4 linked regions of the Homo sapiens genome follow. The protein of the gene in region 1 purifies or fractionates together with the protein of each later gene. This does not show direct contact. Each region holds a gene or a part of one and is shown on either strand. Other genes may lie near its edges.

Region 1 (7,023 bases):
CTCTAAAGGAGCCAAAGCTCCCAAACGTATTACATCACAGTTTGATGCATGGTCCTATGTGGAGTTGTTCAATCTGTTTACTTGTCTATGATGGCTCTCTCTACTAGTGAGGCGCAGTACTCAGAACAGCTTAGCGCCAGGCGCAGCGGCTCACACCTGTAATCCCAGCACTTTGGGAGGCTGAGGCGGGCAGATCACTTGAGGTCAGGGGTTCGAGACCAGCCAGGCCAACATGGTGAAACCCTGTCTCTACTAAAAATACAAAAATTTGCTGGGCGTGGTGGTGCATGCCTGTAATCCCAGCTACCCAGGAGGCTGAGGCAGGAGAACTGCTTGAACCTAGAAGTTGGAGGTTGCAGTGAGCTGCAGTCGTGCCACTGCACTCCAGCCTGGGTGACAAAGCAAGACTCCATCTGAAAAAATATATAAATAAATAAAACAGCTTAGCATAGAGCATTCATTTTAAATACTTATTAGATGAATAAAGAAAGGAATCAGGGCCCGAGTCACAGGCCTGCAGTCTATGAGTTGGCCTGGCACAGAATTTCCCACTACGGGGGTTGGGGTGTCTGTGTTATATGGTGACAAGCCTGTCTTTGGTGAGTTTCTGACATGAGACCCAAAGAGAGGACAGTAGTAGCAGAGGCAACAGAGGAAGAGTTCTAGAATCTGTGTCATGAGAATGGTGATCACCAGTGGCTGCATCTCCAAGCCAATCCTGTATCCACAGCATAACCAAGGCCATCTTGTTTTCCCTTGAGGCCTGGCCATGTTGGCTGCCAAGATGGCTTCCTGGCTGTCCTCACTTCAGTATGTACCCTTACAATAAACCTTCATCCACTGATGTATCCTGAGGGTTTCTGGTAACCTGAAAGAGCCTAACATGGCCCCTATCCTACAGAATGAGCTAACAGGGGCAGGAACTGGACTCAATTCATCCCTGGTCCCCCTGAGGATGGAACCCGTAACTTATGAGTAGTAGGTATTCAATAAGATCCTGACATCAACTAAAATCCTTCTGAGGCATTTCCCGCCACATGCCCCACCCCATCCTCAACACATTATACATCATTCAAACAAGACCAGCTCACTTGTCACACCAAACGCATCCGAACACTTCCAGTGTGCTCCCAAATCTTAGTATGAAGTATTTGGCCTGGCATTCTTTGCCCATTTACAGGACTCTGTTCTTTTTTTTTTTTTTTTGAGACAGGGTCTCACTCCGTTGCCCAGGCTGGAATGCAGTGATGTGATCTCGGCTTATCGCAACCTCTGCCTTCCAGGTTCAAGTGATTCTCATGCTTCAGCCTCCTGAGTAGCTGGGATTACAGGTGTGTCCCACCACACCCAGCTAATTTTTTGTATTTATAGTAGAGACATGGTTTTGCCATGTTGGTCAGGCTGGTCTTGAACTCCTGACCTCAACTGATCCGACCACCTCAGCCTCCCAAAGTGCTGGGATTACAGGCATGAGCCACCGGTCTGGACTCCATTCTTATTCTTTTTCTTTTTTTTCTTTTTTTTTGAGACAGAGTCTCACTCAGCCACCCAGGCTGGAGTGTAGTGGTGCGATCTTGGCTCACTGCAACCTCCGTCTTCCAGGTTTAAGCAATTCTCCCGTCTCAGCCTCCTGAGTAGCTGGGATTACAGGCACCTGCCATCATGCCCGGCTAATTTTTGTATTTTAATAGAGACAGGGTTTCACCATGTTGGCCAGGCTGGTCTTGAACTCCTGACCTCAGGTGGTGATCCGCCCACCTCGGCCTCCCAAAGTGTTAGGATTACAGGTGTGAGAGACCACTCCTGGCTCTTATTCTTTTCTATTGGGTTTTCTTTTCTTTATTAACCCAGTAATGTTTCAACCTTGGTTTGGCAACTTCATTGGGAAAGGGAAGAACCCAGCCCTCTGAAGCGCAGGTGAGTAGAGGTCAGTGCCTTCGATGGTAGACAGGGTTATGGTCTCAAGACTGATCTTGGGCATACGAGAGAAAATGAAGAAAGGCGTGCTGCAGAGGCCCACAATGGATGGACACAAACTTTAGATATTATGAAAAAGCCATGATTGATTGGATGTGGAGGGAGCTGAGGTGTTAATAAAAATGCCAAGGTTCTCAGAAAAGGTAACTCAAGCAGTGATGACAGAAGCAGAAATTCAGAGGCATTAAGGAAAGAATTCTTCCAAGTTAGACCTGTTTCGATGGTGAAGTGATACTGGTGTTCCTCAGGAAGTCAGTCATGTCCAAGTAGGACTCCAGTGAGACGTGGGGGCTGCAGATAGATAGAAGAAAGGGCTACGGCCATCCCAGTTGTCAGTACTTGTGAAGCAATCTAGTGTTTAGTGTCTTTCGTTGAGGCTGGAGTGCAGTAGCGCAATCTCAGGTCACTGCAACCTCCATCTCCCGGGCTGAAGCGATTCTCCTGCCTCAGCCTCCTGAGTAGCTGGGAGTACAGGTGCGTGCCACCACGCCCAGGTAATTTTTGTATTTTTTAGTAGAGACAGGGTTTCACCATGTTGGCCAGGCTGGTCTTGAACTCCTGACCTCAAGTGATCCAACCGCCTCAGCCTCCCAAAGTGCTGGTATTACAGTCGTGAGCCACTGCGCCGGGCCTAGTGTTTAGAGTCTTTAACACTGCTTTAGGACACAGTTTGGTGTTGTCTCATTTGAGAAGCAAGTCCCTTATGTAGCATCAGTAAGTAGCAAGTGCAGTAACCTACACAGTGGTTTGATTAGCATAACTACCACCTGGGAGACAGCTCACTCACGAAGTTTGTCTCCTCCTAGAGGACCAAATAAAAGGGGATTTGTCGAAACACAAATTCAGGCTTCAAGCCCTTCTGGCTGTGTGCTGAAGCCAGATGCATCGAACACAGTGAGACAGGGAAGCTGCCCTTCTGGAGCTGGTTGTTCAAGGATGGTGCAAGCAACCACTGGCTATGGCGAAACTGAGGCCAAAGCAAGCAGCTTAGTAATCCTCTCCCAAGACTAAGAGTGGGGGAAGCAGGTGCCCATCCATCTCCTTCTGGGCGGCTCATCCCTATTCTAACGACCAGAATTTAAAGTAAAACAAATCCATGGCTGTTTTTCAGATTTTAAGCTTGAACCCAATCCCTAAAAAATCTCAGCCCCCTAAAAACACTGCAGACAACCAAATGAAATGTATGACCTATGGACGACTTACCAACACACACATAATTCTTCTCATAGAATGAAAGCCAATTGTGAAGTGTCAGCATCTCAGCGGCTGACAGGTCGGATACGTCATCCACGAGGCCTGCTTCAGAACAGTCCCCGGTCACGAAAGCTCTGGATGCGTCTCGGCCTGGAACAGAGATGTTTCCATCAGACCCAGGTGTAAACCACTGACACCATCCCCACTCAAGAATCTGTTTTCTTTCTTTTTCTTTTTTTTTTGAGACGGAGTCGCACTCTGTTGCCCAGGCTGGAGTGCAGTGGCATGATTTCAGCTCACTGCAACCTCTGCCTTCCGCTTTCAAGCCATTCTCCTGCTTCAGCCTCCAGAGTAGCGGGGATTACAGGCGCCCGCCACCACGCCTGGCTAATTTTTGTATTTTTTTAGTAGAGATGGGGTTTCACCATGGTGGCCAGGCTTGTCCTGACCTCAGGTGATCCGCCCACCTTGGCCTCCCAAAGTGCTGGGATTATAGGTGTGAGCCACCACGCCTGGCCAGAAACTGCTTTCTGAGAAACGTCTCTTGACAAGCCCTACTCCTTATCCCCAGGGAAATGGGGTCCCCACCACCTCCTCTGTGAAAGATGCTCCTAGACCTTGGACACACATCTCTTTGGCATTGGTCATATTCTTTCTTTTACCTTCGGCAAACTTTAACACAGCTGACCACTTCCCTTGGCCTGATTTTCCTCCTACTTCTCCAGCTCCTCACTGTCTACCAGCCTTAGGGGTCAATTACTGTCCACACCCTCACACTTGACAATCTCATCCACACCTGTGGTTTCAAAGCCCACCTACAGGCAAAGATAGCCACATCTGTATCTTTAGCTCAGATGTCTCCCAAGGCTCACACCTGTATATCCAACAACACTTAGACGTCTTACAGATATCACAAGATCAAAATGTTCACACTGGCTGGGCGTGGTGGCTAATGCTCATAATCCCAGCTCCTCAAGAAGCTGAATAAGGAGGACTGCTTGAGCCCAGGGGTTTGAGCTATGACCATGCCACTGCACTCCAGCCTGCGTGACAGGGTGAGACCCCATCTCTCTTAAAAAAAAAAAAAAAGTCCACATTGAAATAGTGATTATCAGCACCCTCACAGCCAGGAAACCTGTATCTACTCCAGTATTGCCTGTCTCAGTAAATGCCAACCAGTTGCTCAATCCAGGAATGCAGTTCTTTTTTTTTGTGCATGAGACGGAATTTTGCTCGTCGCCCAGGCTGGAATGCAAAGGCACAATCTTGTCTCACTGCATCCTCTGCCTCACGGGTTCAAGCGATTTGCCTGCCTCAGCCTCCCGAGTAGCTGGGACTACAGATGCGCACCAACATGCCTGGCTAATTTTTGTATTTTTAGTAGAGATGGGCCAGGCTGGTGTGGAACTCCTGACCTCCGGTGATCCACCCACCTTGGCCTCCGAAAGTGCCGGGATTACAGGTGTGAGCCACCGCATCCAGCCTGGGGAATGCAGTTCCCCATTTTTTTTTTTTTTTTTTTTTGAGACTGAGTCTCGCTCTGTTGCCCAGGCTGGAGTGCAATGGCGCAATCTCAGCTCAATGCAACCTCTACCTCCCGGGTTCAAGCCATTCTCCTGCCTCAGCCTCCTGAGTAGCTGGGACTACAGGTGCCCGCCACCACGTCCAGCTAATTTTTGTATTTTTAGCAGAGACGGGGTTTTGCCACGTTGGCCAGGCTGGTCTCGAACTCCTGACCTGAGGTAACGTTCCCGCCCTGCCCTCCCAAAGTGCTGGCATTAGAGGCGTGAGCCACCATGCCCAGCCTGCAGTTCCTAACACTTCCTTCATCCCTCACATCCAGTCTCCAAGTCCTGTTATTTTCTGCCTAAGCAGTGTTCTTGTGTCAGTCTGCCTGTCTCCACCCACATCTAAGCAAGCCCAGGCTGCCATCCTTTCTCACCTGAACTCCTACAGCAAACCTCAAGGAAGCCCTCCCTGCATTCATTCTTGCCCCACCAATCTGCTCTTCATACCACACTCAACTGATACTTTAAACACAAACTGATCACATCATTCTCCTGCCAAAGAATCCTCAGAGGCTTCCCTCTGTTCTATGAGAATGTCCAAATTCCTTAACACGTCATTCATTGTCCTGCACCAGCTGCCACCAACGCTGCCTTGCCAAATTTCTGTTTGTTTGTTTTTGAGACAGAGTTTCGCTCTTGTTGCCCAGGCTGGAGTGCAATGGCACAATCTCGGCTCACCGCAACCTCTGCCTCCCAGGTTCAAGCAATTCTCCTGCCTCAGTCTCCTGAGTAGCTGGGATTACAGGCATGCGCCACCATGCCCGGCTAATTTTGTATTTTTAGTAGAGATGGGGTTTCTCCATGTTAGTCAGGCTGGTTTCGAACTCCCAAACTCAGGTGATCGGCCCACCTTGGCCTCCCAAAGTGCTGGGATTACAGGCGTGAGCCACCACACCTGGCCACTGCCACGTTCTTTATTGTTCACTTTGCTCCCTTCCTCTCCTCCTCTTCAAATCGGTTACAGCCTCTGGTAACACCAGTACTTTTCCTTTTAACACTTTTCACAAAAATAATACATTAATTGTGTAATATCTATTTAATATCTATTTAATGTCTGTCTTTTCTACTAGTAAGTTTTATCAGGTAAGACAACACACCAAACTCATTTACTATGGATTCCCCAGTGTCTGGTACAGTGCCTGATCTTTAGTAAATTCCCAGTAAATATCAAACGAATTAAATACATAGTTTTTTTCTTTTTTGAGATAGAGTCTCGCTGTATCGCCCAGGCTGGAGTGCAGTGGTGCGATCTTGGCTCACTGCAACCTCTGCCTCCTCGGTTCAAGGGATTCTTCTGTCTCCAACTCCCAAGTAGCTGAGACTACGGGCATGGACCACTGTGCCCAGCTCACACAAACATTTGTACATGAATGTACATAGTGGCATTATTTATAACAGGCAAAAAAAGTAGAAAGAAACCAAAAATCCATCAACTGATAGATAAAATGTGGTATATCCATATTATTAGAATTATAGTATCTATAGAATATTTTCAGCCATAAAGGAATAATGCACTGCTACATGCTGGTACACCATGGATGAACCCTTAAAACATGATGCTAGGTGAAAGAAGCCAGACACAAAAGGCCACACGTATGACTCCATGAAATGCCCACAATAGGCCAATCGACAGGAAAAGAAAGTAGATAGTGGTTGGCAAAGGAAGGAATAAGGAGTGACTGCTAATAGATAAGAAGTTTCTTTCTGGGGTGAGAAGAATGTTCTAGAGTTAGTGGTGACATTTTTACAAATTTCTGGCTATACTAAAAAAAAAAACCCACCGGGCCAGGCGCGGTGGCTCAGGCCTGTAATCCCAGCACTTTGGGAGGCTGAGGTAGGCAGATCACGAGGTCAGGAGATCGAGACCATCCTGGCTAACACAGTGAAACCCCGTCTCTACTAAAAATACAAAAACTTAGCCAGGTGTGGTGGTGGACGCCTGTAGTCCCAGCTACTCGGGAGGCTGAGGCAGGAAAATGGCATGAACTCAGGAGGCGGAGCTTGCAGTGAGCCAAGATTGCGCCACTGCACTCTAGCCTGGGCGACAGAGTGAGACTCCATCTCAAAAAAACAAAAAAAACACTGAATTTTGGCTCATACCTATAATCCCAGCACTGTGTGAGACCTAGGCAGGTGGATCACATGAGGCCAGGATTTCCTGTCCAGCCTGGCCAACATGGCAAAACCCCATCTCTATTAAAAATAAAAAAAATTAGCCAGACATGGTGGCACACGCCTGTAATCCTAGCTCCTCGGGAGGCTGGGGCACAAGAATATTGAACCC
Region 2 (7,959 bases), on another chromosome or scaffold:
CTACGGGCAAACCTACAACTTCAAACCCAAGCCACCCAGTGGTTTGGGGGTTGATGACGCAATCTGAATTATCCCCTGATCCCTCCCACTCTGTCTCCTGTGGGAGAAACTTACTCACCACAGTGTGAGCAGAGAAGAGAAAGATACACAGAATCCGCTGCCAGGACTAGTTAACAAAGGACTGAAACGCCCGTGTGGTTGCTTATCGAAGCTGGTCCTGGACACTTTCACTTTTCCCTGGATAATGCCAGTGGGGCTGGCAGCTCATTCCTGAGATGACCTTGTTCAGTCGCCTTTATTATTTGCTCACACACTCGGGAACCAGGCCCATGTGGTGTCACAATCCCTGCTGTCCATCAACCAGAATCGCATGTCTGACCACAAGTGGTGAAAATCAGGCCACTGCCAGACAGAGAAACAGGCCAGGCACACACCTCGCTCCAGCTCGGTGACCCTCTGCAGCAGCGCGTTCAGGGTGCTCTCGGTCTTCTGCCGGTGAGCCGAGGTCTCATTGTGCAGCAGGGACTTCTCGTCCTCCAGCTCTGCCACCTTGCGCAGAAGCTGCCTCTCCAGCTCCCCCAGCCGCTGCTGGAGCACCTCGCGGAAGTCGCCGGGCAGCCCAGCATTGGACACGTTTGCTCTGAGCTGGTGCTTTCAGCCACCGGGGAGGAGGGAGGGGCACAGAAAGAGTTAAAAAGAAATTGTGAAATGTGGCTGTGATGGCCCGACCACACAGGGAGAAGCTTCCAAAACGCAAGCCCTGAATCTTGCCACTGGCAGGCAGGGGAGCATCTCACTGATGCTTTTTTGGTATGGAAAAGATTTCAAAGTCAGATAAGAATTACTTTGCTGCAATATTTGAAACTTGTGAATCTAATTTTCCCTTCTCAAAAAGCCGTTTTTCTCCTCTTACTAAAAAGTCAATATTCTAACCAACGCCTAGAATTCTATGTTGGGTAGAGACCAAAACTCAGCTCCAGGATTTTTTTTCTTTTTTAAGAGTAAATCGATGGTTACACAAAGCCAAGGAGCTTTCACCTAGAAATGAAAACAGCCCCCAAGTTCCGGTCTGGCACCAAGGTAAATAACTATGCATGCAGAGATGTTTCTGGAAAATGACAGATCTAAAACGTTGCTATTCTGAACTCCAGCAATCTTTGTTTTTAATGCTGTTTCTAAATCCTCACTTCCTATTTCTCTTTCTCCCCTACCATCATGTGGTTCTGGAGGCTGTGGCAGGCTGCCTACCCATGAGTTCATGGCAAGCTATTTACCTTTCTCCACAAAGTGTTCCAAATTGTGAAATGCACATAATGGGACCTGCCTCATGCCATTCATTGTTCCAAGGATTAAAAAATTAAATGATGTGCCTGACTCATATTTAGTGCTCCAGAAATGTTAGCTGTTAGCAATCACAATGAATCAGGGGATATACAGATGCTGGAAATACTGTATTCAGCCCTCACGCCAAAAGAAACCCTAGAGTCATTTTTGCAATAATTACCACCTGTAATTTAAACCTAGTTTTGCTGAGAAGTATTTTCACAAAGGCTATTAACAGCAGTGTCCACACTTCTTAAAAAGGGTGGAGCCTAAAGATGAAAAATAATTGAAGATTTTTCTCTCAAAGTTCCAAACTGCACGCATTTTCAGAGATAGAGATGAGACGGAGGCGGGAGCGGGGGGCGGGGGGGGGGGACGGAGGGGGAGGGGGGGAGGGGGGGAGAGAGAGAGAGAGAAGGGAATGAGGTCCCTTCCCCTGAAGCAATCCGGAAGAGCACCTTAAAATGGTCCAACTTGCAGACACGGGAGTCTTTGAAGTTAACCAGAGGTTGCCCCTCTAATGCGCGCTCTGGGGTCGCCGGTGACCCCCTGCGCTCGCCTCCCTGCGACCTCCGCCCCCAGACTTCCGCCCCCTCTAGCTCAGCCTGACCTGATTTAAAGAAAGAAACACCACATGCCCGGGGCAGCTGACCTCCCGCGGCAGCCTCGCAGCAACCCGCACGGCCTGCGGGAGCGCATCCCGGCTCGCGGAGATTTGGAGATTTGCAAGAGGATAGAGGCTACCGCGTCCCCGGGTATTTGGCGCCCGCGGCTTGGCCGTCTGGGTTCGCTAGCCCGGACCTCGGGAAGTGCTCGGCGGATCCCGCTGGCAGTCCCGACGCGCGGGGGTGGAATTTAAACGTTTCCTTCCAGCAAGAGCAGCGGTGTGGGAAGGGATACCACGCAGGGGAGTTCCCGAGCAGGATCTAGATCCCCGCCTTTCACCCTCAAGTCCAGCTCACCCCCACGGACGATCACACCCTCCCCAGGGCCAGGCCCCCTTTCCCCATCCTCCCGAGTCTTCCGCCCCCGACTCGGGAGCGTCCCCATTCCAGGTCCCCCGCGCTCCCCGCGGGCCGCTACCTCGAGGCTCTCCAGGCGGTCCTTGAGGGTCTGCAGCGAGCGGCTGAGCTGCTCCACGACGTGGCCGGGGTCCCGCGGCAGGTCGCCCATAGTGTCCTTGCCCGTGGCCCCCGCGCCGCGCGCCTTGCCGCCCGCCAGCCCCTCGCAGCGCGCTAGCTTGCCCGTGAGCTCGCGGATGGCCTCGCGCTGCGCGCCCAGCGTCTCCTTCTGCTGCACGACGGTCTCGCGCAGCTGCAGCACCGCGGCCCTCAGCTCCTCCTCGGGACTCTGCGCGCCGCCCTGCATGGGCATCGCGGGCAGCGGGCAGCCGGCGTGCACCGCCTCTGGGGGCAGTGCCGTGCACACGAAGCGGCTACCGGGCGCCGGGCTGTCCTGGGCCCCAGCGGCCACGGCGAGCGCCACGCTGGCGGCCAGCAGCGCCAGCATCCCGCCGCCGCTGCCGCGCTCAGCTCGGCATGGGCGAGCGGGCGCCGTCGGGGCGCTCCGCGGGAGGCGCCTTCGCTGCTGGCAGTAGCCGCGCTGTCGTCTCGAGGGTCGCGTGCACCGCGGGGCAGAAGTCTCCTGCCGTCTCACAGCCGCACCCACCGCGCTGCTCGGCACTCTGGCCTGCCGGGTCCGCGCGCCCTTTCTTAAGCTGAGGGGCGGAGGGGGCCGGCGTGTGGGGCGCGCGCCACGAGCTCTGATTGGCTCGGCCGGGTGCGCGTCACGCAGTGGGCGGAGCGGGGCGGGGCGGGGGCGCTTTCCGTTGCGCGCCTGGCGGCCGGGCGGGAGCGTGGGCCGGAGCCTGAGGCGAGAGCGCGAGGTCCCGGGCTCTGCCTCAGGAAAGGAGGCCTGAGGTGGAAAACGACACTGGGGCTCTCGAGAGCCTCGGCTGGCCGTGCCCAGGCGCCCCTCGAACCCACCCGAGGACGCGGGCGTCACAGGCTGAGGAGAAAGTGGGAACCCCTCGGTGTCCCGGTGCCCCTTTCTCAGGGTGGCTTCTGGCGCGGCACGGGGCCTCGCTGCGCGTTTGCCGCCGCCCTCAGGGAGGCGTTTTCTCCAGCAGGAGCAGCCCCCCAGGCGGGACTCGAACCCCGACTGCCATCGCGAGCCACCCCCGCGGCAGGCGTGGGCCTTCTCGTCAAGGCCCGGCCACCTCACTCTCGAGGCGGGAAGGAGCCGCACGACGGCCGCCTCCGGATGCAACGGTCCCCGGGACGCGCTCCATGGCCCCGCCTCCACCCCCCGCGCCAACTCGGAAAACGCTCGGGAAGAATCCCGGGGGCCTCGGGGACCGGGACCAGGACCAGGCGCCGGACGCTGATGGGAAGGAGGGGACACCCGGAGTTAGGGACAAAGTCACGAGGCCACTCGCAGAGCCCTCGCGCGCGTGTTCATCGACTGCCCCCTGGGCGGTGACCTTATTCAGCAAGACCTGAGCTCAGGGGCGGGGTGACATCTAACTGGAGTCATCATGATGGAGCCACGTGGTCCAACAGTGCCCGGTCCTTGTAACCAGGAGGGCCCGCAGTGTCACCACTTCCTCGAAGTGAGGCCACTGCCCTCAGCTTCTTGGAGACAGCAGATATGAGCAGAAACCCCCAAAAGTCAGGAGCAAATTTGTTTCAGAATCTCTCCAAATCTGTGGCTTAAAACAAGTTCAGAGGGATTTTGGTGCACAGCTACAGACTGAGCTGGTTTACTGCACATTTATAAATGGAAATCTTTATTTCTTTTCCTCTCTATGTTTTTAAGAAATCCTGTTGCAAGGTCATTAATCACGTTATCCATTATACCACAAACAAATGGATTTGTCACTTGTGCGCAGAAGCCGAGGTTGATTCTGAAAGCAAATTGTACCAAAATAAATGAAATTATTATGATAATATAAACTAGACTGCAGTGATTAATCTCTAGAAACCAAATTCTGACCTGCTTTGCACTTCAAACAATAGCTTCTATTATGTAAATAGTTGTGGGGTTTTCAAGGACATTATTGCTAAATTATAAGAAAAGTTCTATTCTTGAAAATCTCTTCGTGGATAAAAATGAGAGACAGGAACCTGGTCTGCAAGGTATCCAAAGCAGAGGACAATGGAAGTAATGATGGTTCAGGTAAGAATATTCATTAGCAGAAAAAGGTATGGATGGGAGATTTGGGGTGAGTAATGGGCTCATGTTTCTGTTAGCCTGCATCCCCAGGAGGTGTCAGTTTCACCTTGTTAAGTATGACCTTGACTGGACTCATTCTTCCTACATCCTTTTTCAGCTGGATGAAAACTCGAAAAAGTTCAAATAAACCTACATATGCACAAATTACAATAATGAAGGCAACAGGGTTGCAAAGCACTTTATGCCTTGTTACATTTCAGATGATTCATAAGGCACCAAATCCAGACGTTTTCAAAATTATTCAGATAACGATGTGACTTTTCCATTTTCACTCATAGCTTTGATGTTCCTCTTTACTTGTAGACCTAGGTGGCCCTTAATTGGATGTGACAATAGAGTATTATCGTTCCTGTATTGTTCCATATATCCTTTCTTGACACACAGACTGATACATTCATATTTGCAACTACTTGAAGTAGAAGCTTGTTCCTTTAATAATTAAACAAAATCAAGTATCTTTCCAGAATTCTAATTTCCTCCTGAACAAAGAAAGCAGTGTACAAGAGTAAAAATAGCATATATCCCAATATAATTACTCCTAAACGTCTTAAAAGAGATTCCAGTATGAGAAGTGATCAGTGAAATTGCCAAAGCTCAAATGGAAAGACCCAGACATTTGAAATGTTATTTTCTTTGGAGGCAGTATAATTAGAGGCTTAGTTAACAGAGTACATGCTATTTACAGTTTTATTTTATCTTCCTGGTGCAATGAAAAGCCTGCTGGCTTAGGAATGAGGGATCTAGTGCTAATTCTAACTCTGTCACTAGCTAAGTGGTTTGGGGCAAGTCATTTCTCCTCTGGACTTCAGTTTTCTTGCATATAAGATAAGGGAGGGGCGGGGGTTGGGCACGGTGGTTCACACCTGTAATCCCAGCACTTTGGGAGCCCGAGGCAGGCAGATCACAAGGTCAAGAGATCGAGACCATCCTGGCCAACATGGTGAAACCCCGTCTCTACTAAAAATACAAAATTTAGCTGGGTGTGGTGGCGCCCGCCTGTAGTCCCAGCTACTTGGGAGGCTGAGGCAGGAGAATCGCTTGAACCCAGGAGGCAGAGGTTGCAGTGAGCCAAGATCATGCCACTGCACTCCAGCCTGGTGACAGAGCGTGACTCCATCTCAAAATAATAATAATAATTTTAAAAAGATAAGGGGATTAGACGCAACTGTCTAAAGGTGCTTTGGCTGTACTCAAGAGCATGATAGTTTGAAAAAGAAGGAATCACTGTTGGTGTGAGGAACGTTTCAGAAACTTGTTTTTTCTGTGTGTGTTATTAACCACCTGTAGCCAAAGGTGAATGTGGAAAGGCAGGGTCGTTTTGTAGTACAGCAGGTAAACCTTCATACACGGAGACGCCGTAGTTGTGGTTAAAACCTGCTTTCGACAACACGAAAGCTCATACTGGGTTTACTCACAGCACAACAACTTTGTCTACCTGAAAGATCCTGCATGTATGACTCATGCTACCCATGAGGATGGTTATGTGAGTGGCAGAGACCAGGGCCCACAGATTTTCCTCCACTTGAAAAGTCGTGCAGATCTGCAGCAGTGAATCAGCTCCACCTAATCTCTTAGTGTAACTGATGCTGCAGCATAGTAACCACCCACTCATTCACTATGTCGGCTGGTCCCAGGTCAGCTGTGAGCCCAGTATGGACTTAAACCGTGTGCTGGGAATCCTGATGAGCTCATTCCGCCTCCATTTTATTGCCCCATCTGTTTGGTTCTCTTGTTCTTCTCACATGCATTTTTATCTTGGTCTTCTGGGAAATGTGCTAATTTCCACCATGGTGTGAGAGGATCCCATCTCATACTTTCTTACATTTCCTTCTCTCTTTCTCAGTGCCACTTGGGAAGTCAAGAATGAGAGTGTGAGCTCTAACAGAATCCAAGGACAGCTTCCTGCAAACATGATTCGGGAACTGTCCTCGGTGCTGAATTTCAATTGGAAGGGGGAAATAGACGTGTGTGTGTGTGTGTGTGTGTGTGTGTGTGTAAAGTTCAGTGCAGATAAAATAGAATTTGGAAGCTCCAGAGGATCCCTACTAACACACATTTATGCTTAAAATGCTAAGACGCTTTCAAGAGTGGATTTTTTTCCCCACTAGATTGAACTGCATGGTAGTGTGGAAAGAGCTTGAGCTTTGGAGTCAGACAGCTTTAGTTTCAGTCCCAGTTTTATGACTTGCCACTTTACCTTGAGAGAATGATTTAACCTCTCCCAGCCTCAGTTTTCTCATCTCTAAAATCAAAGCTAAATTTACTACAAAATATTGTTAGGCTTGAGTGAGATAATGTAAGTGAACATGTTTGGCATATAGCCAGTGCACAATAGATGATAATTGTCCTTTTCTTCCCCTTTTCTCCACTGAATTTAGACCTGTATTATGTAAGTCCCTTTAAAAACAAAGTTGAAAAAAATTCTTCCCTTTCTGCAATATTCTTTAGAGTTAAATAAGGCAAGAATACTTAAGAAAGAACAGGCCAGCCTCCCAAGAGGAAAGACAAGGGATGAAAACTTCAGGAAAATATACTGGTGTCTCAGCAAGATAAAGATATACTACTTTGTGGGTTTTTTTTTTTTTAAAAAAAAGATAAAGCATGGTATTATTGAGCTTTAATCAGAGGATTCAGTCAAAGTGAACTGTTTCACACCTACACTTGGGATATATCACCAGACTATGTGCCTGGACCCAACTAAAAAATTTGTAATATTTAACATCTCAGTGATTCTGAATTTGTGTTGCTACGGGACCCAAATAGATATAAGCCCCTCAGATAAAGCAAAATGTTCTTGCTTCAGTGCATCTGTGTTCTTCTTGAATAACATATTTCTGGCTAAATTTTGGGAGCATGTGAGATGAGACACTGAGTTTCAGGAAGTGGTGTCCCTGTACAAGTATATTATCACATTTAGCTAGAGAGCCGTGATTTAGGGGAATTGGTTGTTCATATTACTCAACTGATTTCAACAAACCAAAAAAGGCTTTTGGTGGCATCCTCTGATTTCAAGCAATAGAACGAGTCACCGGATATACCAGGGATAATGTCTTACCTCAGTTTTTAAAAGTAAGGGATAATAGACTGGGAGTGGGAGGAGGCTGAAGGAAGGAACATCATCAACTTAGTTTGCTTTGAGAAAATCTTCTATGAATGTAGTCTCAATTTCTCTATATTAGGAAACACCAAGAAAGTGCCCCACTTTCACATAACTTACAAGTGGTGAAATTGGCCTATTTCTGATAAAGACATGTGGCTCAATATCTCTGTATGATTCAGGCACACAGGTAGCTTGTATGAATCTTTGAAAGTGAGAGTTTGAAGATATTTTATAGAATTTTGAAGACTAGGAAACAGTTTGAGAAAGGTTAAAATGTCATATGGCAGCTAGATAGGAAGACT
Region 3 (7,023 bases), on another chromosome or scaffold:
GTAGACAGGCCAGAGGCAGGGCTGAGGAGGGCTGGAGGTTGCTTCTCCTGTTCCTGTGCTCCACCTAGGATGCTGGCCCTGAGCCACCAGACCTGTCCCTCCCCTGCAGCTGTGCCCCTGCGATGGCCCCTCCATTCTGAAATTTGCTCCTCACCACTGTTTTCAAGAAGTAGCTTGAGGCCTGCCTCCTCCAGGAAGCAGCTTGGATATTCTTTCTTTTCTTTTCTTTTTCTTTTTTTCTTTCTTTTTTTTTTTTTTTTTGAGACGGAGTTTCCCTCTGTTGCCCAGCTCACTGCGACCTTCACCTCCCAGGCTCAAGCAATTCTCCTGCCCCAGCCTCCCGAGTAGCTGGGATTACAGGTATGCACCACCACACCCAGCTAATTTTTGCATTTTTAGTAGAAATGGGGTTTTGCCATGATGGGCAGGCTGGCCTTGAACTCCTGACCTCAGGTGATCCGCCCACCTCAACCTCCCAAAGTGTCGGGATAACAGGCATGAGCCACCATGCCTGGGCCTGGATTTTCTTCTCCTGAACCCCTGTTCCCCATGTAAGCTGGTCCCAGCTAACTGCTCACCATTTCTCCTGTTCTCCCCAACTTGTCTGTAAGCCTCTTAAGGGTGGTCTTCACAAGAATTGAAAGCTGAAAGGTCTTTGAGAGCTCATGAGTCCTAAACCCCTATTTCTCAGATGAGGAAAACTGAGGCCTGGGGAAGGAAGTGAACTTCTGAGGTCACAGAGCAAGCCAGAGACAGATATGCAACCAGGAGCCAGGTCTCCTTATGCTTATACCTGTACCCTGCCCATTATGTTCCTTTGACCCCTTGGCAGTGCCAGGCACAAGTGTTAAACAAAATCCTGACCAAGTCATTGAAAATGCTATTTTGTGGGTGGTTAAATGTATGGTTGTGGAGTCAGACCTTGTTTGAGGTCCAGACCCGCCACTTTTGTCTGTGTGACCTTGAGCATGTCACTTGACTTCTCTGAGCTTCGGTCTTCTCATCTGTGAAAACTGTGGATTAAATCAGCTGATGTATCAAGTACTTAGCCCACTCCCAGGACACAGTAAGTGCCAGAAAATGAGATCTGTTAATAATGTTGATAATGATAACAATATCCCCCAATGATTCTCTCCACTGTGTGTTCCACAGCCTCCTCCCCACCCTCCAGTCTGTCGATGTTAGCCTCCGGGGAGCATGGATATATTTTTTGAATGGCTCTGTCATCCTGAGGACCCCTCCAATGCCCTCTGCAGGACCCAGGACCCACCGTGCTCCAGCTCAGCCACACGACCCTGCAGGACGTCCAACTCCTTTTCCACTTCCTGCCTCTGCCGGCGGCTGCTGTGGCTGAGGGCCACACGCTCCTTCTCCAGTGCCAGCACCTGGGCCAGCAGCTGCCCCTCCAGCTGGTCCATCTTGGAGTGTAGGCCGGTGGGCACAGCAGAGACTGGGGCTGGGGCAGCTGAGAGGTTCACACGGGCTGGAAGCTCCTGCTGTTCACAGGGCAGAGAAACAGAAATCAACTGAGGGGAGGAAGGACAGGCTGGGAACACTCAGATGCCTACCGCCCCTGCTCAGTGACCCCAGGGGAGCCTCAGCTTCCCCAGTATGCAAAATGGGAATGACAATGGCCAACATCAGGCAACAGATGCATCCTGGGTCCCTGGCAGGCTCTGTTCCTGGTGCTGGCACATGACGGCGAGCAGCAGGCAGAGCTGGCCCCGGCCCTCAAGGACAGCTCAGGCTGTGGTGGGGGTGTGGGGCGTGGCCATGAGTGCTGTGAAGGTCCCCCAGGTGGTTTCAGGGTGCAGCTGGGGCTGAACGCCCCACCCTAGTCCTTCATAGCAGCAAGGCTAGACACTGATAGGCTGGTAAAGGGGCGGACCATCTTAGTCTTCATTCCCTCACTCAGCAAGCTTCTCTAGAACGGTCCTTGGCAAAAGGCTCTGTATGGCCACTGGGCCCACTCAGGGCGTGAAACAGGGACTTCTGGAGCAGGGCCCCGGTGGCTTGACCATACCAGGGTGACAGGTGGTTGAAATCACATACTTTGGAGTCAGACAGCCCAGGGTTCAAAACCAGCTCGGTAACCAATCTGCTATGTGACTCTGAGAAAATATCCTGACTTCTCTGAACTTGTTTACTCAAAAGAGAGCTGCACCTATTTGGAGAGTTGTGGGGAGGACTAAGGATTAAATATCAATAAACAGAGCCTGCTTATTGCAATTGCTGTCTAGGGCAGGGTGTTCCAGGGTAGGCTCTGACATCCCCCATCCAGCCCGGGATGAGGTCTAAGTGTTCAGAGTTCCCCATGACATGCCTGTCTTATCTTAAGACCCCAAGGGCAGCAGAACTGGGGCAGGAGCTGGGAGGGTTTCCTTCCCCTTCTCCTGCTGGAAGAAGGCCCCTCTGGGGTGGAGGAACGCAGGTGAGGCCGCAGGTCCAGACTCTTCAAGGGGACAGTCTGTGGCAGACATGTCACAGAAATGTCAGTAGGAGATTAATAATTCAATGAGCTGCTAGGAGCTAAATTAAACCTTCACCATCCTCCACCATCCTCCTGGATTCCCCCTCCTCCATGGTCCCCGCTACCAGGCCTGATGCTTGCGAACTCCCCAGGGGCCTGGGAAGTTTTTGCTCAGTCAGTTCCTTGCTCCCAGGCTTAGGCCCCAGACACGAACTCATTGCATTCTGTGATTCAGTCACTGAGCAAACATTCAGAGGGCACCCCCATTGTGCTGGGCACTGCCCCAGATGCTGAAGTTGTGGCTGGAGGCAAAACAGAAAACCAAGAACCCCACCTTTCCTCAGTTTCCTAAGCTGCGAGGGGATGGCCTTGCAGCCTGGGACAAGTATAGAATCCCCTGTCCAGCCTCACTGGCCCAGCCAATGGCCTTGTCAGTCATTTGCTGGGTGACACTGGACACTGCTGGTGGCTGCTGTGACTGAGGGCCGCGTGTTCCTTCTGAGCTGTGCACTCCTCCTTAACTTCTCTGAGCCTGTTTTCTAGCCATGGGACAAGGGGAGAAGTGCGTCCCCTGCATCAGAGTGCTGGGGGCAAAGGACCACTGCCATGCTCAGTGCCCGAGACTTGGGAGCTGCCAGTGTGGACAGCAATGTGACCTCATTTTGAGGAGTTGCAGGAACCGGCCCTCGGCTCTGCCACTGCCCCGTGAGAGTAGGGACAGGTGGGCTGACACTCCGAGATCATTTTTCCCCTTCTATAAGATGGAGACACGGAATGCTCAGCCTCCAGGGCTGGCCAGCATTAAATGATGGCGTGTAAGGGAAGTGCCCAGAGCCTGGCCCACAGTGGGTGCCGGGGGCATGGTTTTGGGTGCATGGGGTAGGTGGGAAGACTGAATGGGACGCTCTTGCTGCCGGCTGAGCCTTAGCAGACACCTTGCAAACATTCCCTCTCTGAATCCACTTAACATGCCAGTGTCCCCATTTCAGGGGCAGGAAAACTAGGGTGAGTTAACTAAGATCACACCAGGAGCAGGAGCAGAGCTGGGATCTGAGCCTAGCAGTCTGGCTCGCCCGCCCCCTCTGCATCACTCGCCACGCAGCCTCTCTTGGCATCTGCCAAGCGGCCTCTCCAGAAGCCCTATTCCCTCTCTGTCCCACCTGTCCCTTGGCTCCCATGGGAAAGGTGAGGTTGCTTCACAGGGCAGGGGGTCTGGTGCCACTCACACTCAGCAACCCCCCTCTTCTGCTGGCAGTGGGAGGGGCTGAGGATCAACCTCTCCATTCCAGGCTGTAAGATGGGGCAACAGACACAAGTCACTGTGGTCGTCCAGGCTGGCTCTGGAAAGGGACCCATGAAAGCAGCGGGAGAGGGGGGACTCTGGCCACCATTATCCACCCCCCCCACCTCTTGTGTAAGAGGTCACGGCCTCCCAGCCACGCAGATGCCTACTTGGCCCACGAGGATGGGGTGGAGGCCAGGTGAAGGTGGGCATGGGATGGGCGAGGAGCCTTACAGTGCACTCCCCGCTTACATTCATCTTTGCTTTCCCGAGGGCTCCTTCTGTCAAGGTGCCTATAAACCCTGACTCTGGTGCAGACTAACCACAAAGCCTTGGTTTCCCCTCCTCTAAAACGGGAACAGGCTGGGCATGGTGGCTCATGTGTGTAATCCCAGCACTTTGGGAGGCCAAGACAGGCGCTTGAGCCCTGGAGTTCGAGACCAGCCTGGGCAACATGGCGAAACCCCATCTCTACAAGAAATACAAAGATTAGCCAGGCATGGTGGTGCATGCCTGTGGCCCCAGCCACTTGGGTGGCTGAGGCAGGAGGATTGCTTAAGCCCAGGAGGTTGAGGCTGCGGTGAGTCATGATCATACCACTGCACTCCAGCCTGAGCAACAGAGCGAGACAAAAAAAAGTGTGTGTGGGGTGAAACAGACTTCCTCTTGTTCATTCCCAGGACAGATGGAAGGATGGGAGGACAAGTGACAGGCCCTCATGGACTATAAAAGCATAATGCCAACTGTGGGGCTTGACTACATTAGCTGATGGGGCGCTCATTACCTCCAGAGCCTTCAGGTGACACTGGATGGCCCACAGGGTGACAGGGTCAGCCACCCACTGCATTCGAGATGGCTGGACTTCCAGGAAGCCTTGGACTGAGGCAATCAGCTCAAGGGGCGCATTTCATCTCAGGGCTGGAAGGGCGGGCTGGGGCAGGGTGTCCCTGGTCCCAGGTACTGTTCTGTCCTCAGTTCTCCACCCGCTCTGTGCCAAGCTTGAGGCCAGAGGGGCATGCGGGAGTGAGGCTGTGCACCGGGCCCATCATAGGCACTTGGCATGTGTTTACTCATGAATCCTCGCAGCTGCTCGCTGAGGCTGGCACTCTTCGTATCCCCATTTCACAGATGGGAAACCAAGGCAGGAGTCGTTTTGAATTGTCTATAGCAATGGGGCTGGGCCAAACCGATACCCCTGGAGCCAGCATCTCCTCTCTCCAGCAAAGGGAGAGAGGGAGGAAGACTTGCCAGGAAGAACAGAGGGAGGAAGATCTGCCAGCAAGAACAGGGAGTCGAGGCTATTTAAACAGACGCTGTTTGGAGGAGAAAACGTGCGGGCTGAGGGGGTGTGCGCTCAAGCTGTTCTTTTGTCAGAGCCACTGGCTCTGCAGCGGCCAGGAAGGCCATGGAGGAGGTGGGCTCGCCGGATCGTGTGTGAGTCCCTCCCCGTCCCAGTGTCTGAATCAGAAGAACACGACTCCCGCACCCCCACTTCCCATCTGCTGTGGGCGCAGGCTGTGCCGCGTGGGCTCCCGGCCCGATGCCAACTGGGCCCCTCACCTAAGATGATGGAGGGAATGATGACGCCAGCACCCCCACTCAGCTCCTGCTGGGGCAGAAAGGTGGAGGCTGGGAACCCATGGCCTGTCCCGCTGGGAGTCCGGGGTGGGGTTTGGCGTAAGTGTGCTGGGCCTAGAGCCAGAGCCCCTTGTTCTAGGCCTGGCTCAGCCATAATGTGCTGGGCTCATTAGCACTCAATCAGAATGCTAACGGCAGCAGCTGTCTCCATCGAGCACTCGCTGCATGCCAGGCCCCGCACTAGGGAAGATCTGTGCAAACAGTTCTAGGCTGCTCTCAACAGCCTGGGGAAGTAGGGAGGCCCACTCAGAGATGAGGGAACTGAGGCTCAGTGCCTGTCTAAGGTCACATACCTGTGACGCTGCAGAGCCAGCACTCCAGCCTGGCCTTCCTGATCCTGAAATCTGTGCTCATTCCTCAGGCTCACACTGATGGTCTGGGTCTGTTGGTTGATCTGCCAAGTGGGCACAGTGCTGGTTGCCCTGCCTAACTCGAAGGCAAGCAGGAGAGGTACTAATGGCCACGGGAAGTCTAGAAGATCCAGAAGGTTGTGTGAGACTATGGCGCAGGGCAGCTTCACAAAGGGAGACTGATAGGAGGGTCCTGCCAGCGTGGGGTGGCTGAGGCTGGGAGGATGCAGGGAAACCCCATCACCTTAGCCCCACCCGGGGTCTATTCCCTTGCTGCAGGGAGCAGAAGGCAGGTGCAGGACTCCAGGGCCAGAGTCCCATCCTCTGCACAGCCCACAGACTGTGCTCATTCCTCAGGCCTACACTGCTGGTCTGGGTCTGTTGAGGGTCAGGGTCCCACCCTCTGCACCACTGCCCCTGCCCAGGATCACCCAGGTAGTGGTACTCCCAGCTGGCAGTGAGGCAGAGGCTGTTCTGGGACGGCCAGACCACCAGGTTTTGCAACGGTGGGAGTTTGGGGTCAGAAAGCTTTCTCAGAGAAACCCCATCCTGCCACCCCACCTCCCTCACCAGGGGCAGACTGCAGGGGCACCAGGACCAGGTGGAAAGTGAGCAGCCTTCAGGGGGAGCAGTGTGGACCACGGCCCCTCACCTCCCCCATCCAACCATCCCCTGAGTTCTGAGTCCTGCTAGGGCTCACACCTGGGCTTCACCAGCTGAGTGGCCTTGTTATGTAACGGTGCCATGCCTCAGTTTCCCCATTGGCCCCAAAGGGTAAAAGAGTAAATCTCATAGCATCGTGGTGAGGATTGACTGAGTTCATAGACAGAAAGCGCTTAGTGCGCGGTAGGCATAGGAAGCATCACAGGCGTGTCTACTATTAATGTCGTGACTAACAATTTTTTTTTTTTTTTTGCGATGGAGTTTCTTTTTTTTTTGAGACAGAGTCTCGCTGTTGCCCAGGCTGGAGTGCAGTGGCACGATCTCGGCTCACTGCAGGCTCCGCCCCCCTGGGGTTCACGCCATTCTCCTGCCTCAGCCTCCCGAGTAGCTGGGACTACAGGCGCCTGCCACCTCACCCAGCTAATTTTTTGTATTTTTAGTAGAGATGGGGTTTCACTGTGTTAGCCAGGATGGTCTCCATCTCCTGACCTTGTGATGGGGATCAGCTGATTGGAAACGTTTGGTTCTTGAGCCTGGGCAGGGGCCTGGGTAGTAGTATTTATGCCTTTTTGCCCATCTGAAATACTTGACATGATTTTCTTTTAAAAACAGGAAAACAA
Region 4 (7,023 bases), on another chromosome or scaffold:
ACAAAAAAAGAAAAACAAAAACAAAAAACACGTGCCTGTAATTTCCATTATCTTCTAATGTTTACCTTCATCCCAATACATAGTAAGTTAGTGTTCTGCCACTCAACAAAGCCCCCCTAAGGCTCAGTGCTACCTGAGACACTGGTGGAAAGTTGAGAATGTCTAAGATTCTGTCCCTGTCCCCTGGAAACTGGAGCTTCCACTGGCCTTGCAGAAGGAAGACCCATCACTCGAATTCTGTCATGACAGTCTCTTGGAAGCTCTATCTTGGGAGTACTAGCGTTTAGGTGGATTCTGCTTGTTAATAAAATGGACTGTGGTGTTCTAGAAGAGGTGTTTTCTTTCTTCTCAGATATTTCCATATGAAATGCTCATGGTGACCAACAGAGGGCGAAACAAAATCCTCAGAGAGGTGGACAGAACCAGGCTGGAGGTAAAACAAAACCGAAAAATCCAGTCCCAACTGCAGATCCCTATGCACTCCCCCAACTCTCCCCTAAGCAATGTTTTATTTCTTCAGTGAAAACAAAAAAAAATTATAAAGATCACCCTCATGTCATAGGTAGAACTAAGAAATAACTTTGGAGAAAAAAAATATCCAGGTTTTCACTTAGATCAGCATAAAAATGCCTGGTAATATCCAGAAGAATGACCCAGGAGGTGGGCATGGTGGCTCACGCCCATAATCCCAACACTTTAGGAGGCCGAGGTAGGCAGATCACTTGAGGTCAGGAGTTCAAGACCAGCCTGGCCAACACGGTGAAACCCTGTCTCTACTAAAAATACAAAAATTCACGGGGCATGGTGGCAGGTGCCTGTAGTCCCAGCTACTTGGGAGGCTGAGGCAGGAGAATCGCTTGAATCCAGGAGGTGGAGGTTGCAATGAGCCAAGATCACACCACTGTACTCCAGCTTGGGCAACAGAGCCTGACTCCGTCTAAAAAAAAAAAAAAAAGAAAGAAAGAAAAAGAAAAAAAGAATGACCCAGGAGACACAGAATGATTTCAGTCATTTTCTTTGAAACTTGATGTTGCCATAATTATGGCTGGTAATTCAGAATGGGAGTCGCTATTTCTCTTGAGATAGTCTCAGATCCTTATCTTCCCCTGAGCTGGGGTTGAGTTCATGGGAGGCTGTGGGAGCGGCAAAGGCTCTCAGGAGAGACATTTATACTGATTTATACTGGACAAGTTTCTTTCTTGGCTGTTTCCACATTCCTTGTTGAAGGGTTATCTGGGTACATGTACCCAAGATCTCCTTAGACATGGAAGACTAATTTTTGTATTATAGTTTTCCATCCCAATGATTTTAATTAAGAAAAACCCTGGCTGCCAGTCTCCGAAAGAATGCTTACTTTTTCCTGACAAAAGGCAGTACCTTGGCGTAGAGGTACAGAGAATAAAGGCTGCAGGATCTTGGGGGAACTTTTCTAGGGGGGAATGACTGATGGGAAGTCTTCTCAGTAGAACAGACATCCACCTTACCCCCTATTCCTCAGCCAGGAGGAAGCCCTGGGGCTCCCCAGGGACCACGCTGGAGGTCATTTTCTTTGGCTTTCTATTGCGATAGTCCATTTTCCCTGCATCTTCTCAACGTTCCAAGGACCTGGGATGGAGTTGTCTCCAATGTAATAAATCACCTCTCTGTGTCCCATCACCAGTCAGTGTTATTATTATAATCCCCATTAATACTCTGCCAGCTCTTTTATCTGATGGGAAGGGCTCCTCACCTGGCCCAACCAGGTAAGGGATACTGATGTCACAAGCATTAAAGATGGGCTCCTCTCCCGTCCTCCTGCCTTGTTCTTCAGAATGACTCTGTATAAACTATAGAGCAACGCTCAAGGCCATTTGTGTGGCCATCAGGACTGACAGCAGCTCTTTTTTTTTTTTCTTCTTCCCAGCGCCACTTAGCCCCTGAAGTGTTTCGGGAAATCTTTGGAATGTCCATACAGGAGTTTGACAGGTTACCTCTTTGGAGACGCAACGACATGAAGAAAAAAGCAAAACTCTTCTAAGTCCCACTCGTGAATGGCAATTAGAGAAAGGACTGACAGTGGCGGTGCCCCATAGGATGTCATATTGAGGCCCAAACTTGATTGGAGAATTTGCAAACTACCGTCGCTCAGCAACACCAAAAAGAGAAAGTCTGGTTAAAACACCATGAGTCAAATGTCGGGCCAGCCAACAGTAACACTTGCCAAGAAGCATGGCGTAGAAATTTCTATGTTCCGAAACACAGAGTAGTGTCCACATGTGAGCTTTTCACATTACCTTATGTATACAACAGGAGCTGCGTTGTTTTCTTCTTTTTCTTTTCCTTTATCTGTTGTCCAACAACAGTGCTGACTGTCCGGATAAGAGCTGGCAAGTGCCCTTAGGATGCCGCATGGGAAAAATCGGTTATCATAATTTCAAAGTATAAATATATTTATTAAGTAGCGCTGCGGCTAAGAAGGAAGAGTGAGGGGTCTGTCCATGGGGTGGCAGTGATTTCACACCCGCCTTTCTTGAATGGCTTCGTGTTACTCAGCCGTGCCCTGGCAGGAATGGAACTCCATCAGGGAACAGGGCAGCTCTGTTTGAATGGGGTGAAAAACAGCAAAATTAATTCTTAGCAAGCTCCTTGTTCTCTACTGTTCACCGGGACCTGGCTGGCAAATGACTTAGCTATTAGTATATTTAAAAACTGTTCAAAAGCAAAAGAGAAGGAACAGGAATGAAAGGAAACCTTCCCTTAACTCTTTCTGCTTCCCATAGCAGGTCTGGTTCCTGCTCCCCGCCTAGGACAGGAGCTGTCTGGAGCTCCACCTTTGCAAAGAAAGGAAAAACACAAATTGCCCCCAGATTGGCCCAGTGGCATGCCATTAGGTGATTTTGCATAGGGGCCATATCATTCATGGCCAAAAAAAACCAAAAAGCAAAAAACAAAAACAAGTCCCATGTCCTACTGACTCTAGTTCTTCCAGTCGTTATCCTCTGCTGTCTCTCTGGCATCCTATGAATCAGATCAAGCCCATGCTGTTGTTGGTTTTTAAGGTTTCTTTCAATAATAGGCTAAGGAAAGACATGTTTTTCTCTTTTAAATCTCTGCAACTCCAAAGTAGACTCCTTCGAACGTATTTAATTTGGCCTTTTCAGCTTTCTTCTTGCCCAGCTCTGTCGAATTCATGGGTGTGTGTGCACATGTTGGTTTCACTCACCCAGAGTAATTTTGTGAGCATGCATGTGCTTTTTAATTTCTGCTTGAATGTTTGTCCTGCTGTGTTGCAGCTTCTAAAGACATTGTCACCGAGTGTGTGTGACTCAAAGATCAAGAGTGAGGCTAAACTGCGACCCCAACATCACTTCCTTCATGGAAAGGTGTTGGCGCTGATGTAGCTCATGGAAGGATCAGACTGGGAACCACAGAGGAAGGATGAGGTGGGATGTGGAGGTCAGAGCATCTCACGAGAGTCCCTCAGGCTCTGCAACACTAGATTCGAATATGAGCCTAGGGTTTCCCCAACACGTGCGTGCATATGAAACCACATCATGATTCCCGACGTGAGTTAGATGAGGGAGAGTTTGTGTAACTCCACACCCAGGAGGGTAAGCCACTTTATTATCATGCTTTGGGGCTGTGCTTAAGAATTTAAGCTCTGTTTTAAAGCCGAAGAAGAAAACATTTGAATTTACCTTCATATGCCACTAAGAACAAAAGCTCTGAAGTTCTTCCTGCTGGCACCAAATATTAGGATTACAAGCTGTCTCTCTGACACCAGTGGTAAAAAAGCAAGTAGAATAGTTTCTGAGTCTGTGTTGCAGCCTCTGACACGTGGCTCACCGCTGTCATTTGGGGGATGGAATGAACAGTCACTGTTCTATAGCATCCTCCTGTGCTCTTACCTAAGGAATCTAAATTGTCCTAGCCTTCCATTGCTATGCACTGAATGAGGACTACTCTCGTGTGTGTGTGTGTGTGTGTGTGTGTGTGTGTGTGTGTGTGTGTGTGTGTTGGATCTACTAACATGTTTAGCAAATGGCTCTGACAGGGTGGCCATGAGCAGATGAGACCAGCTCTTGCTTGGTTGGAAGCCACACTGCAGTTTGCAGTTTAGCCTTTGGTGTCTCAGTGGCTTCTTGCTTATTCCATGCTTTTTCTATCCCATCCTCTCTCTGTGCCCTCCTGCAATGGCAGCCTTGGCACAATGCCTGGGTGTCCTCATCCTTGCTTTACTCTGGAAAGTGTGGGGATGGAGAGGATGGTGCATTTCCAGTGCTTCCTTACCTGTCAATAACAATGGTGGCCACCTGGGTCCCAGCACTTGGCTGGTGGAGAGATTTTTTTCATTATGGAGCTAATAAAGGGTCCCTACGTTTTACATTGATTAATGAATTATCACCCAGACATGTGCAGATGAAATGTCAATATAAGAAAAATCAAGGTATTTGGGAAACATGGGCATAATCAGGTAGTTTTGCTAAAATTCCTCTTCCTTGGTCTACATAAAGAAGACATGGGTCTGTCATAGAATGGGGACATTAGACTGAAAACTGGGACAACCCCCTTCCTTATTTTATAGAGACTAGGAGTTAAGGGGCCTGCCTAAGATTGCAGTGATAAAGAACTGAACCCTAAATCAGCTCCCACTAATGAAACCCTGCTTTCCTTGTATCTTTTAAACTCAGTTCTGCATCCAACTTGAGAAGAAAAAAAGCTTCTTTCCATATCAAGTACCATATGAGTTCATTTAAACTGCACCTTGCAGAAATGCATTGCCAGAAAGCACCAGTAGCCTCCTATCTGCAAGCAGAGTAGTGCTCTGCTCTGGGGAGGGGTCATTGGAAACCATAATGCAGAGTGGGCCCCCTACTCCATTTCCCAGCAAAAGGCTCCAGCTGGAGGGATGGGTTGTGGGGCAACCTGGTTCCTGCTAACTGCCAGATTGAATGTGTGGGCTAGAATGCCTGCACATTTAGTTAAACTGGGCTCAGCATGCTTGTCCTCAAAATGTCCATCCTGGTCACAGCACACAAGATGGCTATTGGTCTGCTTTTACCCTACCCTGTACTATACATGAAAATTCCAGTTATTAACACACTCAAACTGGTGGAGCTTGTTCACCCTAGGAAGGGGATTGTATATATGGCAGGCTTCCCTGGTGCCGATGTAAAGGGCTACATTTGGGAACATTTGACTTCCTTGGGACTCTTAAGTGCATAATGATGGCATGAAGTAAAAGGGGCCTCAATGATGATAGGAAAATCAGTTCTTTTAAAATTTCTTCAAGAAAATCCAGGCTATCACATAGTCTTTCTGTGTGACTTATTAGGAGATAGGAAGAGCATTGGGAAACTTGCACAGCTAGCTATGCATCTACATTTTGGTTTGGGGTTAGTTATGAAATGTTCTTAATATGACGTGTTCAATAACTTCACATAAACTTCCTGTTCTCCAAAACCTCAAAGAGATAGAGTTAATGAGTTGTTGTTTTTTTTTAAATGGGGGTAGTTTTCTATCTGTCATGGGCTCTAGCATCTACTCCGCTACCCAATTCTGTCATCTCCAAGCTGAGTTTCCTCTTCTGAGGCAGAGGCTGGAGCAGTTCTTTTTCAGTTCTCATCCTCTCCATCCCAATCCAGTATATCAATCAACTCTAACTCGGAGACGTCTAGCTGGCAATGTTTCTAAAACTTTCACTGGATTTCTTTAGACATTGAAGCAAACATTTTTTTCTAAGAATTGCTTCTCAGATGATGATATCAAATGTATATGCTTTTGCAAGTTTGAAAAGTTCAAATTAACCACTTTTGACTAGGTAAGTCTTTCTAAAAACCATTTAAAGCTAACTGGGTCTTAGCATCCTCCTGTGTATGGAAGAGACAGGTGACCGCTCCAGGTTGGGTGCTCACAGAACCCTTTTCCTGACTCTCATGGAAGATGGTGGAAGGAAAATAGACTGTCTCATCAACCCTCCTGTGTCCTCTGAAGCAATCTCAGTTTTTATTAACCACCTCTTCTGTGTTTCTGGTAGCTATTTAACCTGTATTTAATCTGTACTTCCTATGCCAGCCTCAATTTTATTTGATTTTTACAATTATTCTCTTCTAACCAATGAAGTGTTTGTCAGTATGCCCCAAAGCTTGCTCTTTTGTGCTCCCTTTTGAATAACTTTCTATCCAGAAAAAGAGATTATTTGGGACTTGAGATTTGCAGTGATACCAACTTATAGCAATGATGTACTTTAAGGGAACTACCCAACTATGTTGTGATAGAAGAAAGAGAAACCTTCACTTTGGCATTTTTTTTTAATCACTGTTTATTTTTCTGTTTGCGGCCCAGGAAGCAGTGGGAGGTGGTGGCAGATATGCTTTGCATATGGATTGTTATGTTTTTATTTGGGCAAGTTTAATCATGGAAAACTCAAAAAGAAGGGGGGAAATGGTCAGTTTAAGCCAAAAGAAACTTTCTAAACAATGTATAGGTACACAGCAAAATTAAACAAATCCAACAATTTCTGAAGCTTAGTGTAATTGAGTGGTGGTTGTTATTCAATAAAATTATTCCCAAAAGTGTTTCTCCTAAGAGTGCAGTTCCCATGAGTCACTTCCTGAACCCATTGACCAAAGGTGGACAGAGACAATCCTGTAGACCTTGACATTCAGAAAGATGTGAGCTGCTTACTGATCATATATGCATACGTTTCTTTACAGCAGAGGAAACCATTGTCCACAAAACTGATGTTCTTTTGGGGTTTTATGTACAGACTTGTCCAATCATGTGTGTGGTTCCTGCGAGTTGCTGATGACTCCGCATTGAAGCTCTCTGAGTTCTTTGATTTTAAGTTGGGTTTATGGAATTTTTTCAAATGTTGGAAGGTGTGTGGTTCTTCCTGCCCTCCCTCCCCTTTTGGAAATATGAAAGCAAATGTTTAGAAGAATTCCTTTTGAAAAGCTGTGTCGTGTTCCCTGTGAAACTGAGCAGGTGTGTGTTGGCGCGCTAAGTGCCACATGCTTGTGTGTAGAGGAGGAGGTGGCCCTG

The links.
Region 2: the proteins of CYB5D2 (region 1) and NPTX2 purify together in Homo sapiens (affinity purification with mass spectrometry; 2 studies listed by BioGRID and IntAct, with this or other methods). This does not show direct contact.
Region 3: the proteins of CYB5D2 (region 1) and NPTXR purify together in Homo sapiens (affinity purification with mass spectrometry; 2 studies listed by BioGRID and IntAct, with this or other methods). This does not show direct contact.
Region 4: the proteins of CYB5D2 (region 1) and ABLIM1 purify together in Homo sapiens (co-immunoprecipitation; 3 studies listed by BioGRID and IntAct, with this or other methods). This does not show direct contact.

Annotation. Positions count from the first base shown.
Region 1 is NC_000017.11:4,146,189-4,153,211, reverse strand, and holds part of CYB5D2 (neuferricin isoform 1 precursor), read right to left. Parts: intron 3,322-7,023; coding exon 3,181-3,321; intron 1-3,180. UniProt on the Homo sapiens protein: Heme-binding protein which promotes neuronal but not astrocyte differentiation.
Region 2 is NC_000007.14:98,612,335-98,620,293, reverse strand, and holds the start of NPTX2 (neuronal pentraxin-2 precursor), read right to left. Parts: upstream 3,010-7,959; 5' UTR 2,833-3,009; coding exon 2,407-2,832; intron 652-2,406; coding exon 435-651; intron 1-434. UniProt on the Homo sapiens protein: Likely to play role in the modification of cellular properties that underlie long-term plasticity. Binds to agar matrix in a calcium-dependent manner.
Region 3 is NC_000022.11:38,827,017-38,834,039, forward strand, and holds part of NPTXR (neuronal pentraxin receptor precursor), read right to left. Parts: intron 1,497-7,023; coding exon 1,271-1,496; intron 1-1,270. UniProt on the Homo sapiens protein: May be involved in mediating uptake of synaptic material during synapse remodeling or in mediating the synaptic clustering of AMPA glutamate receptors at a subset of excitatory synapses.
Region 4 is NC_000010.11:114,431,254-114,438,276, reverse strand, and holds part of ABLIM1 (actin-binding LIM protein 1), read left to right. Parts: intron 1-352; coding exon 353-433; intron 434-1,903; coding exon 1,904-2,017; 3' UTR 2,018-7,023. UniProt on the Homo sapiens protein: May act as scaffold protein. May play a role in the development of the retina. Has been suggested to play a role in axon guidance.